Linked DNA regions of Homo sapiens: all the other regions are reported to be linked to region 2. The links are microRNA targets in miRTarBase. Many come from high-throughput screens and were not tested one by one. Region 2 holds a microRNA gene; each other region holds the end of a gene's coding sequence.
The links. The annotated mature microRNA hsa-miR-6847-3p reads GGCUCAUGUGUCUGUCCUCUUC and lies in region 2 at 2,970-2,991, shown strand. An mRNA with a match to its seed (bases 2 to 7 or 8) in the 3' UTR can be bound and repressed. Matches are read on the target gene's strand: a 7mer-m8 pairs with bases 2 to 8, a 7mer-A1 pairs with bases 2 to 7 and ends in A, and an 8mer does both.

Region 1: miRTarBase lists TMEM169 as a target of hsa-miR-6847-3p. Seed matches in the 3' UTR shown: 8mer at 3,084-3,091.
Region 3: miRTarBase lists SCUBE3 as a target of hsa-miR-6847-3p. Seed matches in the 3' UTR shown: 7mer-m8 at 543-549.

What each region holds. Positions count from the first base shown.
Region 1 is chr2:216,100,238-216,104,448 of GRCh38, reverse strand. TMEM169 (transmembrane protein 169) reads right to left here. Exons shown (of 3, transcript NM_001142311.2): 3 at 1,666-4,211. The coding sequence ends at 3,907. Among named protein-coding and RNA genes, the nearest start is that of XRCC5, 7.0 kb to the left of the region's middle.
Region 2 is chr8:144,076,949-144,081,159 of GRCh38, forward strand. It overlaps MIR6847 (microRNA 6847), which reads left to right and starts at 2,926; the gene lies at 2,926-2,994. It overlaps EXOSC4 (exosome component 4), which reads left to right and starts at 1,724. Exons shown (of 3, transcript NM_019037.3): 1 at 1,724-1,951; 2 at 2,995-3,201; 3 at 3,294-3,700. The coding sequence starts at 1,781. The coding sequence ends at 3,653. It overlaps LOC124902038 (a long non-coding RNA gene), which reads right to left. Exons shown (of 2, transcript XR_007061141.1): 2 at 1,051-4,211. RefSeq lists enhancers at 1,436-1,485, 1,496-1,795.
Region 3 is chr6:35,247,979-35,251,978 of GRCh38, reverse strand. SCUBE3 (signal peptide, CUB domain and EGF like domain containing 3) reads right to left here. Exons shown (of 22, transcript NM_152753.4): 22 at 1-3,423. The coding sequence ends at 3,274. The region is part of intron 1 of SCUBE3-AS1 (SCUBE3 antisense RNA 1); the gene reads left to right. Among named protein-coding and RNA genes, the nearest start is that of SCUBE3-AS1, 9.5 kb to the left of the region's middle. RefSeq lists an enhancer at 3,748-4,000.

The DNA of each region.
Region 1 (4,211 bases), not on the chromosome of region 2:
AGTGTAGTAGCGCTATCTTAGCTCATTGCAACCTCCACCTCCCGGGCTCAAGCCATCCTTCCACCTCAGCCTCCCGAGGGGCTGGGACCATAGGTGCACACCAAGCTGTTATTTTAAGCCATTGTGTTTTAGATGTTACAGCAGCAATAGATAACTGAAACAGCAGAGATTTTTTTGAACTATTGCTACAATGTAGACCATGTGTTCCCCTTCAGGTAGTTAATAAAGGCAAATAAAAATTTTATTTTGTAATTATAATTTAAGTTGCTGGAATATGTTTGCATTTGGTATTACCTTGAACGTGAACTATGAGTAATGACTTCCTGACCACTATAAAAATTAAAATATACAGGCTTTGTGTTCTGACAGAGAGCTGTTACAATGGTTATATGGGTAACTGAGAAAATAAGTAGAATATTAACAGAGTACAGATATGAAATAAAAGTTTATGTCCTGGCTGGGCTTGGTGGCTCATGCCTGTAATCCCAGCACTTTGGGAGGCTGAGGCGGGTGGATCACCTGAGGTCAAGAGATCGAGACCATCCTGGCCAACATGGTGAAACCTCATCTCTACTAAAAATACAAAAATTAGCCAGGCATGGTGGTGGCGCATCTGTAATCCCAGCTGCTGGAGAATCACTTGAACCCAGGAAGCGGAGGTTACAGTGAGCGGAGATTGCACCATTGCACTCCAGCTTGGGCGACAAGAGCGAAACTCCATCTCAAAAAAAAAAGTTTATATCCCAAACAGATGTGAGTAGTAAGATGTCCACTAATATTTTTCAACACTGCACAAATTAAGCTCTGGGTGGCCATTCCAAAATGGCAGAATGAAACTTTCACATCATCTGAAATTGGTTATTTTTAAGATTTAGAATCTTGTTTTATAGAAAATCATGGGTTTTATTCTTCTTGGATGTGAAGTGAAATGAAGGGTGCTACCTAATGTCAATAGACAAGATGACTTGGAAACACATCAGTGTCACCCTATGGGCCAGACATGGTTTATCCAGCTCAGCACATTATGGCTGCTAAGCAACTGGAAAATATAGTCATCTTCCTTGATATTCACCACGATGATTAGGCAACTATGAGCCAAAAGAATTGTTCAAATATGGTATTGAACTCTCCAGTTTCTCCTCTGATGGTCTCTGTGGTGTTTGCTGAGAGCAAAAATGAGATGCTTTGGTTCTGTTTGGTTCTGTTTTTCCTTCCTCTAGTCTAGGCTTTTACATACCTCTATAGAACCCCTTTGAAATGGTTTTAATTTACAAGCCTATTTCTTCCACTAGATGATGAGCCCAACTAGGATGAAGGCCATGTCAACTTTATCTAGGTATCTCTTGGGTATGATCTCATCATCATCCCACACTCTTCCATGGCACCACAGCCACTTTACCTGTGTCCTAATCACAACTTTTTGGCTTTTCCCATTGGTTTCCCCAACCCCAGAAAAATGGGACAAATGTGGTTGCAAGTTTCTAGTGTGGTTTGTGAAAACAGTCCACCTAAATAGAATTCCCCAAAATTAGTGAAGCATGGAAAGAGTCCAGACACAAGGATTCATATTAAAATCATTACATACATATAGGACAGCCATCATGCTCACCCTTTTTCTGCAAACCATAGCATTCAAAGCAATTTTGAAGAGCCTCAAAGACAAAATGAGCAAAAGTTAATCAGACTTTATTTTTATTTTCTTTGTCTTCATTTAATTGTTCATATCTCTGCTAATGCACCATAGAGCACCAAGATTAACACTAAAACTGTTGGGCACTTTTTTTTTCTTGTCAAGCTAATAATAGTTATTTAAAAAAAAAAAAAAGAGAGAGTTCCTCTGAAGGTGGAGCTCAGCACCATACATCAGGCAAATGTCCTGGGCTCTCTGTGGGGAGCATGACAAACTCCTCTGGTTTGATTCATCGCAGCAGTTCTCTCAACAGCTTTGTTTTGAGACATGAACAAGAAAAGAGCACCAGCTATTCTTATAAGGACCCAAATCTCCAAATTCTGCTGACCTCTTAGGAGTTGATATTTTGAAATTAGAAGGACACCCTTAGGAGTGATTTTTTTTTTTAAGTTCAGAGTCTGTTAATCTGTATTAATCTAGTTTACACTCCCTACAGGCCAGGTAGACACAAGTTTCTCAGCACAGCAAAGATCATGTCTGTGGTTAAACTCAGAAAGGTCTGAGGGAGTAAAGCTCTGAGTGAGGTTTTGCCAAACAACAGAAGGCTAAATCTGGCTTCTTTGTACTTAGGGCTACTGATCGCTGTTGGAGGAAACTTTGGCAGATGCAATTCCTCCCTTCCTGGTCTTTAATCTAGGTTAAATATCACCACCTCGTCCCACCTCCACCACCAGGACAAAGAGTTATGCTACTATTATAAATTGTACTCTCCTGTCCACTATTCCTTTCCAAAAACAAATCACATGACATTACAGAAGCTTAATTGCAAAGTACGTGAGGTGCTAATATCGATGTATAGCATATTCAAAGTATATGTAGCTAATATCTATATATAAATTCTCTGTGTAAGATTCAGGCCTAAATAAATAAATGAATAAACAAATGAATGAATAAATAAATAAATAAAACCATATTAGCAGTTTGGGGGTTCTGAATGTATTTAAATGATCATTGTGAGGCAAAGATTCTGACTTGCCTACCAAGATAACCATTCTTGCCTACAATCCCAGCATTTTGGGAGGCCGAGGCAGGCGGATCACCTGAGGTCAGGAGTTCAAGACCAGCCTGGGCACATGGTGAAACCCCATCTCTACTAAAAAAAAAATACAAAAATTAGCCGGGTATGGTGGCACGCACCTGTAATCCCAGCTACTGGGGAGGCCAAGGCACAAGAATTGCTTGAACCCAGGAGGCGAAGGTTGCAGTGAGCCGAGATAGTGCCACTGCACTCCAGCCTCGGCAACAGAGTGAGACTCCGTCTCTAAAGCGAAACAAAACAAAACAAAACAAAACCCAAATAACCATTCTTCCTTTTTCTTGCCAATTAGCGTGAACCCAGTATTTAGCTGAGAATATAGCTACCCAGCCAAACAACTACATTTCCAGCCTCTTTTGCTCATGACATCATGTGACTGAGGTCTTGCCAATGAGATATAAGAAGAATCGAGTGGGACTTCTGGGAAGTCTCCTTGAACAGGAAGGGTGTGTGCTTCTCTGCCCTTTCCTCTATTTTATCAGAAACATGGATGTGATGGCTGAAGATGTAATCAGCACTGGGATGTTGGGGATAAGGGTGAGAAGGGTCACATCCTACTAATGGTAGAGAAATAGAAGAAGCCTGGGACCTGGATTACTTCACAGGGTCCCAGGATGGTCTGCCTCCAGACTTCTTCTGCACAAGAAAGAAATACACTTCTATCTTGTTTAAGCCACTGATATTTTAGGGTTTTAATTCTATGCAGCTAAATCTAAATCTAAATGATACACACAAATCTTTACCTTCTGCTACACTGTGGTAGTCCAGCTTCCTAAATGTCTCACTCCATCCCTGTCTATTATCTTGGTGGATTTGGTTACCCCGAGGTTCTTTATTCTCCCTGACACATTTAGTCACATACTCCCCTCAGTTCCAGGCACCAGTAACACTTCCAGGCTCCCAAAACGACACACAGCAGAGTTCCATTGTCCTAAATAAATGGTGATTTTAGGGCAGGGAATCAAAAAGAGTTTGTCCATTGGGTGAACTGCTTTGGCACAATTGCTTGTCTGCTCCATGCCCTCCTGGAACCCTCAAGATGGTAAAACTGATCAGTATGGACTCTGATTTCCCAGAAGAACTGCGGAGAGTAGGGGGTAATTTAAAGAAATAATCTGCTGGAATTTTAAGATGATATATAGGCTACTGGGGCCAGAGGAGGGAGTAAGTTGTTGGGAGTTTAGACCGTGGAGGTTTCTACTTCTTGGATGGGGTCCTTGTTGGAGAGAGTGCTTGAGATATTGTCGGATTCAAGCAACTCCACAATGCTGTAGGGAGAACAGTCCTCCAGACCCAGCTTGCTGCAGAGCCAGCCACAGAAGCCTTTCTCCATGTCCCGGGCAGCTTGCCACCATGCTTCCCAGGACCACGAGAGCTGGACCACAGCAGCGTAGAGGCCGAGGGAAGAAGCCATGGCCATGATGAGCACTGGATAGAAGAGAACGAGGCAAGGGCAATACGAGATCTTGTGCCAGAAGGTCCTTT
Region 2 (4,211 bases):
TAATCCCAGCTACCTGGGAGGCTGAGGTAGGAGAATCGTTTGAACCCAGGAGGTGGAGGTTGCAGTGAGCTGAGATTGTGCCACTGCACTCCAGCCTGGGTGACAGTGAGACTCCATCTCCAAAAAAAAAAAAAAAACCTTAGCCAGGCATAGTGGCAGGTGCCTGTAATCCCACCTTCCCAGCTACTTGGGAGGCTGAGATAGAAGAATCACTTGAACCCTGGAGGTGGAGGGTGCAGTGCGCTGACATTGTGCCACGGCACTCTAGCCTGGGTGCAGAGTAAGACTCCATCTCAAAAAACAAAACAAAACAAAGAAACAAACGAAAAAAACGATGACTCAGTAAGAACAGGGACAGTAAGAGCTCAGACTGAAAGGGGAAAAGGGCTCCACAATAAGCAGAGTGGCTGTAGAGCAGAGGGTGGGGAATCCGGGGTGGCAAGTGGCAGAGGGTGGTGACCCATCATGGCCTCAGACCAGCTGCAGCAGCAGGGTTGTGGCTTGCTCACTCACTCTCATGCCTCAGTCTTTCAGGAGAGCTTAACCACCTTGGAGGGGATGCTGTGACAACTGAACTTGGGCCCCTGCAGCAGACCACATTTCCCTAGCCCGCCTGCTCTTCCTACAGTCTAATATTGACACTCCTCCCACTGAAGGGTGGGGTCCCTGTCCTCATCCCTTAAGCCTGGGCAGATCTGTCTGACTGCCTTGACCCACAGAGTGTGGCAGGAGGGACACTATGTGACTTCTGAGGTTAGGTCCTAAAAATACCATGCACATGTTGTCCACCTTGTTGTCCTGGAAGGCTACCCTTGGAACCCAGTTGCCATACTGCAAGGAAGCCCTGGTTGCATGGAGAAGCCACATGTAGGTGTGCTGCCTGACAGGCACAGATGAGGTCCTGGCCCGCCACCAGCATCAGCCACCAAAGATGTGAGGGAGAAAGCTTTAGGATGGCTGCAGCCCCAGCTACCATCTGGCAGCAACTGTAGGAGAGATCCTAAGTGCAAACTATCTAGCTGAGCCTAGATAACCCCAGATTGCAGCACATAATAATAGAATGATTTTTATTATTTGAAGCCGCTGAGGTTAAGTGGCAAGAGATAAACAGACATACAACCCCTCTCTGGAAAGGATGAGGAAATCTGCATCCTCAAAGGGAAAAGGGAGGCCCACCTGACTGCAGTGTGGAAGCTCGGTGTAAAGGGAGGGCATGAGAGGACTGGAGAGGTGCCAGGTGTGGACCATCCTGGGACACCAGCCTGGTCACTTTCCTAGGACCGCTCAATGCCTTCTCCTGTCAGTGTCGCACCCCACTGGGTTCATCCTTCCACTTTCACACTTGGGGCGCGGGGAAGGGCTGAATGCAGGCACCACTGGTCACGAGGGCGTGACTGGGCAATTCCTCCTTCGGCGGGCGCCCACCTCCTGGCACCCGTGGCACAGCTCCGGGAACGGCTGCGGGCCCAGCCGCTGCTTCCCCGATAGCGCCGCCGCAGTTCCCCGGAGACAGAAGTAGAGCCGGACCGCCGGAAACCGTAGATCCGGGGAGGTCGGGGCCGCGGTGAACTCCAGTTCACCAGGACAGGAAGTGACAGCGGAACGCCGGAAACCGCAGATCCACGGAGGTCAGGGCCGCGGAGAGCTGTAGTTCCCCGGAACCGGAAGTGATGGCGGACCTCCGGAAACCGTAGATTCCGGGCGGTCGGAGCCGCCGGGAGCTGTAGTTCTCCCGCGGCTCAGAGAAGTAGGCAGAGAGCGGACCTGGCGGCCGGGCAGCATGGCGGGGCTGGAGCTCTTGTCGGACCAGGGCTACCGGGTGGACGGGCGGCGCGCCGGGGAGCTGCGCAAGATCCAGGCGCGGATGGGCGTGTTCGCGCAGGCTGACGGCTCGGCCTACATTGAGCAGGGCAACACCAAGGCACTGGCTGTGGTCTACGGCCCGCACGAGGCGAGTGGGCGCGCGGGATGGGGAATCGTGTGGCCGTGGGAGCTGCGGGGCAGCCGGGCTGAGCGCTGGCTCGGGGACTTGAGGGGCAACGGCCGGCGCGCCTCAGTCTACACAGCCGATGCTCAGCACCGCATCTCACTCGGAGTAAACGCAAGTCCTTAGTGTGCTGCGCGGTGGTCCTGCCTTTCTCATCGGCCTCTGTCCCTGCGCCCTCCTTCCTCTTTGCGGCTCTTCAACGTGCTAGGCACTCCCCCACTCGCTCCCTCTCCTTTCAGCTCTACTCCGACGTCACTCCTTCCCAGACGACCTTATTATCCACGCGGTACTTCTCGCCCTACAATAAACCCTTTGTTTTGTGCACCTACAATCTCAAATGCCTATTTTGCTTAAGCATTTTCCCCTTTGTTTCCTCGCTGGAACATAAGCTTCCTAAAGAAAGGAACTTTACATAAAACTATCTGGTTTCATTACTGTGCTTCCAGCGCTGTAACTGCCTGGCCAGCGAAGGTATTGAAAGAGTGTTTGCTTAGCGCATGAGTGTGGGAGCTCTGCTTTCCAGGCGGAGGGAACCAGAAGGGCGAAGACCACGGTGGTGAAAACAAGCAAGGCACTTATGCAGAGCAGAAAGACTGCTGGTGGGGAAAGAGGGGATAACTCCAAATCAGGTTGAGGGTTCCCGGGGAGGTGAGGACTTAGGGTTTTGTAGAGTAGGGAAATGATTTGGGATCTTATTTCATATGTAATGTGAAACCTTTGTAAGGTAGTTAGGATTTGAGTGTGTAGGTGAGACAGAAGCAGCGTTGATGTTTGTAAACTTGGGTTGGCAGGGAATGGGGCAAGGATGGACACAAGGAAGCCAATTAAAAGGTGCCAGAGGGCGACACATGCAAGACAGAGAGCGCAAAACAGGGGGCTTTGTTTTGGAGGTAACGCAGTTGCCCCTTGCTGAGGCATTGAAAGTGGAGGGAGAGGCAGACCCACAGAGGACAGTGGAGTGTGAGCTGGAAGGAGTGGGCCTGGCTCATGTGTCTGTCCTCTTCCAGATCCGGGGCTCCCGGGCTCGAGCCCTGCCGGACAGGGCCCTAGTGAACTGTCAATATAGTTCAGCGACCTTCAGCACAGGTGAGCGCAAGCGACGGCCACATGGGGACCGTAAGTCCTGTGAGATGGGCCTGCAGCTCCGCCAGACTTTCGAAGCAGCCATCCTCACACAGCTGCACCCACGCTCCCAGATTGATATCTATGTGCAGGTGAGCCAGCTGCAGCCGTCAATCCAGGGAGGGAAGGGTGTGATGGGGTTGGGGAGGGAGTCTGATAGACTGACACCCTGGGTTCCCTGCAGGTGCTACAGGCAGATGGTGGGACCTATGCAGCTTGTGTGAATGCAGCCACGCTGGCAGTGCTGGATGCCGGGATACCCATGAGAGACTTTGTGTGTGCGTGCTCAGCTGGCTTCGTGGACGGCACAGCCCTGGCGGACCTCAGCCATGTGGAGGAAGCAGCTGGTGGCCCCCAGCTGGCCCTGGCCCTGCTGCCAGCCTCAGGACAGATTGCGCTGCTTGAGATGGATGCCCGGCTGCACGAGGACCACCTGGAGCGGGTGTTGGAGGCTGCTGCCCAGGCTGCCCGAGATGTGCACACCCTCTTAGATCGAGTGGTCCGGCAGCATGTGCGTGAGGCCTCTATCTTGCTGGGGGACTGACCACCCAGCCACCCATGTCCAGAATAAAACCCTCCTCTGCCCACACACCCCTCACTGTACGTTATCACCTAACAGCACTTCAGAGCCATGTGAAGGCTGGCAGAGCCTGGTCTGGTGCTGGCTCCTGGGGATGATTAGGGACCCTCGCCCACACATGAACGGCCTATCTCTGTGTAGCCTGATTCAAACCCTGAAGAGAACAGTGGATTAGGGGGTTTCTGTAGGGGAGGCCCTGGGTGGAAAAAGCAGCATGTCCCAGTAAGGACTCAAGGCAGCTGAGCAGGAGGCAGGGCCTGGCAAGATGAGCCAGGCCATTAGACTGAGGAATCTGTTACCCTTATTCCAGCACATCGGGGGCCCTGAGCAAAGGGCTGAGGAAGAACTCAGCTGGCTCTGGGTACCCACCCTAGGGATGTGGGGGCCATGTCCCACAACCTCTGGACTATGGTTTGGAGCCCCCTGGGCTTTTCCTGCTGCTTACCTTGGGCTCTGAAAGTACAACAGCCAGGCATGGTGGCTCACGCCTGTAATCCCAGAGCTTTGGGAGGCTGAGGCAGG
Region 3 (4,000 bases), not on the chromosome of region 2:
GAGGCCTCTGGGTTGCTTCATGAAGGGATCCTATTTATACCATCTTTCCATTTCCCTCCAATGGTAAAAACCTCTCTTCTGTCTGACCTGTAAAGACCTAGAATGTCCCTGAGCGTTGACTCCTCATTCAATCCAGTTAACCCCTAGTTTGATGTCCCAGGGCCAGCCTCCTCCATAGATTCAGCAGCAGCTTTGCCTGGGTTCTTAACCCTCCAACTTGGAGGACCTAAATTAAACTTGGTGGACAATAGCAGGTTTTTACCTGCTCACCAAGATCTGCCTTGACATCAATTAAGAAGCCTAGTGGTCTATGCCTTCCGTACTGTGGAACTCATTTGCAGGTCTCATAAGCCATGGAATAAATGGTTGAAGGATGTGTATTTGTATGTATGTATGCATGGTGTGACAGGAAAGGAAGGGAGAAAGGAGAAGCCAGACCCTGAAGGCATAAATTAAGAAGCATGGTCACCGTTTGGCTTTCCAAGAGACGCAAAACGGCTGGCAGAGAGGAATCAGAAAGTTATCCTAGGCTGGGCGCGGTGGCTCATGCCTGTAATCCCAGCACTTTGGGAGACTGAGGCGGGTGGATCACCTGAGGTCAAGAGTTCAAGACCAGCCCGGGCAACATGGTGAAACCCCATCTCTACTAAAAATACAAAAATTAGCTGGGCGCGGTGGCGCATGCCTGTAATCCCAGCTACTTGGGAGGCCGAGGCAGAATTGCTTGAGCCTGGGAGGCGGAGGTTGCAGTAGGCCGAGATAGCACCATTACACTCCAGCCTGGGTGACAGAGCGAGACTCCATCTCAAAAAAAAAAAAAAAAAAAAAGAAAGAAAGAAAGAAAGTTATCCTAGCTTCTGGTGGAGAATTAGGATAGTCAGAGTTGATTAAAGCAGTTTTCATGGTGCTTCCTGGGAAGTACAGAGACACTCATACTAAATGACCATTTCCCTTGTTTGGAAGCAGCCATTTTGCATCTTTACAGTGGCCCTCCTTGACCCAGAAAGACAAAGGTAGCCAGACACTCTACCCACAAGGACCATGATGTTGGCTAATGGTTGTCAGGGAATCTAGCTGTGTCATTGGCTACCTACTGCTATGGCCGTTTTGGCTGATGAATGCTACTGATGGGAGGGCAGGGAGTCAGACTCCTTTATTTAGTGTTGAGTCTCCTGGGGGAGCAGTAGCCTAGGACAGTCACCTAGAAATGAACCTGAGCTGTTCTGTGAGTTACCAGGAGAGTTAAAAAGAAAAAAAAAAAAAAAAGAAATGAACCTGAGGACTCAGTTGGTAGCCTTTGATTGATTGGGACTACAGCTTTGGGGGAACTAGAGTGAGAAAACAGAAAATAATTTTATAGGCAACACTTGGATTAAGGGCAGAATGTGTGCAGGCTTTGGGCTTGGGCATGGACTTGATTCTTCTTCCATTTGATTCTTTCTTCCTTCTGAAAAACAGTAGTTGAGGAAGCTAAGCTTGAAGTCAACTTCAAAGGGAAGTGACCAGAGCCAGGCAAATATCTGATGCCTTCTGTCTTATTCTTGGCTCCCACAGCTTTGTCTCTGGCCTCGGGACCCTGAGTCAGCCCATCCCCAGGTGGTATGTCCTGGTCCTCTTCCATGTGTACACCAGGGGATAACAGGATGAAGACAGGGAAAAGATGGAGGTTTTCCCTACTTGGGGTAGAGAATCACTGACCAGTTCCATTGGCCTCTATAATCATGAGGTCCACACTGACTCCATGGAGAGGCATAGGGATAGCAAGATTGGTTTAGCAAACATAGGTCTCTCTCCTTTCTGCTCCATCAAATCCCCAGAATTACTTTCCTACACATCAGATGCCTCTGCGCAATTACCCTGGATTACCACAGCCAAGGGCTCTAGGTGGCCAGTGGTGGCATAGAGACAGATCAGATGCTCCAGCACTCAAGGTTCATGAGATTCAAAACCGATTTTCTTCCACTCCAAACATACACTCTTTTCTCTTGGGCAGCTATAAATAGGGTTTTGCTAATAGAGGAAGAAGAAACAAAAACAAAAAACAAACCCAGAAAACAAAAACCCCTCCGTCTAGACAACATAGAAAGACTCAAAATGATTGCACTTATTAGGTGTGGACAGGGTGGGCAGGAGGCTCGCCAAGTGCACACACATTCCTTTTGCTGCCCACAGCCTGAGGCCAGAGGTAGGTGGCTCCAGGCTGGCTTCAGAGTGGGGTCCTCTTTGGTGAAGCCCACAAGCCAGCTGGGGCTACAAGGGAAAAACAACTGTAGGGCAAGGCCTAGGCTGGCTTCAGGTCAATAACCATGTTTAAGGACAACATGTAGCAAGGGGAGTAGGGCTCCCCCAGGGAGCATCACATGGGGCTGAGGAGGTGGCTGGGCCAGGGAAGACAAGAAAAGGGATTAGTGTTTGAAGTTGACTTCCAATTGTTCTGTGTCTAGTCCTTTAGATGATACATTTTTTCTTTCTGTTTTCTTTTTTTTGGCAATGCTTTAAAACCTTGTTTCTGTCCTGCAGAGTTACAGTCTTTCTCTCAGGGAGCTACAGCGGGGCATTCACCATGACAATGCCTGCTGCTCTTCCTCATTTAGCCGGTGTCCACTAACTCAGTGTTGTGGGCCATTTGTAAACCCTTATGGAGTAGACCCCAGGCAGACGTAGGGAAAGAAAGAGAGGATCTGTATAGACAAGAAAGCTGGCCATGTGGGAAGTCCAGAGCTCAAACCATGTGCCCCAGAGGACTGGTGCTGGCATTAAGCCTGTAAATCAAAGGCTTCTTTGGCAGGACCCTGGGCTGTTAGAATCACCCTAGGGAGCAGAGCCAGGGGACATTTTGGCCCCTGACTAGCAAGGCACAACCCTATAATGGCAGAAGCCCTTCTTTCCCCTCCCCGTTTCCCACCAGACCCACTTCCTTGATGGGCCTCTAGCACCCTTCCAAGCTGATGGGGTCGGGAATGTGAGCTGGTAAAATGGGCAGTGGAAGGGGCTGTACTGTTTCTTTACATCTCACGGGGACTAGAGCCAGTACTGAATGGCTTTTCTAGGTAGTGTGTTAGAAAAGGGGGAACAGTAGAGAGGCAGGCAGAGAGAGACAAGGAAAGGAAACTAGAAAGACAGAAAGGGAGAGTGCCTGGTTTGTGTAGTGATATTTTTTTTTTCCCTCCAAAAAGAGAGGAGAGAGTTCCTTGTCTGAGGGTAGGGGGCTGCCGGCTCTGAGGGCTAAGGAGTCTGGGGGCTTAAAAAATTGGGTCTCTGAGCCTAGGGTTACTATTTGTAGGGCCTCAGGAAGCTGGAAACTTTGGAGCGGAGCAGCTTGATGAAGGATTTTGGCAGCATCTCCTTGTGTTTCTCTGTGTACTTGAAGTAGTTCTGGGGGTGGGCTAGCACCTCAAAGAAGGCCTTGATGAGCTTCTTGTCCTGCAAAGGATGGCAGGGAGCAATGTCAGCCTCACCGTCGGGGGTGGGAAAGAGAAACACCATGACTCAGCAGCCCTTCTTGATGTCTACTAGGCATCCTATACTGAATATATCCAGAGGGCAACTCTGGATTCCCATTCCCACCATCTGCCCTTATTCTGGAATTCCACAACTGAATCAGTGGCAGCTCCATCCTTCTGTTGCTTAGGCCCCAATCCTTGGAGCCATCCTTGAATCCTCTTTCTTGCTTACAAGTATAGCAAATCCTATTGACTCTACCTTCAAAATATGTCTGGGTCTGACCACTTATCATCTTCCCAAGCCACCACTGTCTCTGACTTGGAGTACTGTAGTAGCCTCCTAACTGGTCTCCATGCTACCTTTGTCCCTCCGTAGACTCTTCTCCCCACAGCAGCCAGAGTGACTTTTTGTGTTTTTAATTAGTTCATCTTTTTCCTGTTTGAAACTCTTCTCTGGTTTCTTTTATCACTCATTGGCAGAATGTGATCTGTATCTTGCTTTCCACCTCCACTCTTGCTCCCTCTGCTGAGCCACACTGGCCTTCTGGAGGTTCCTG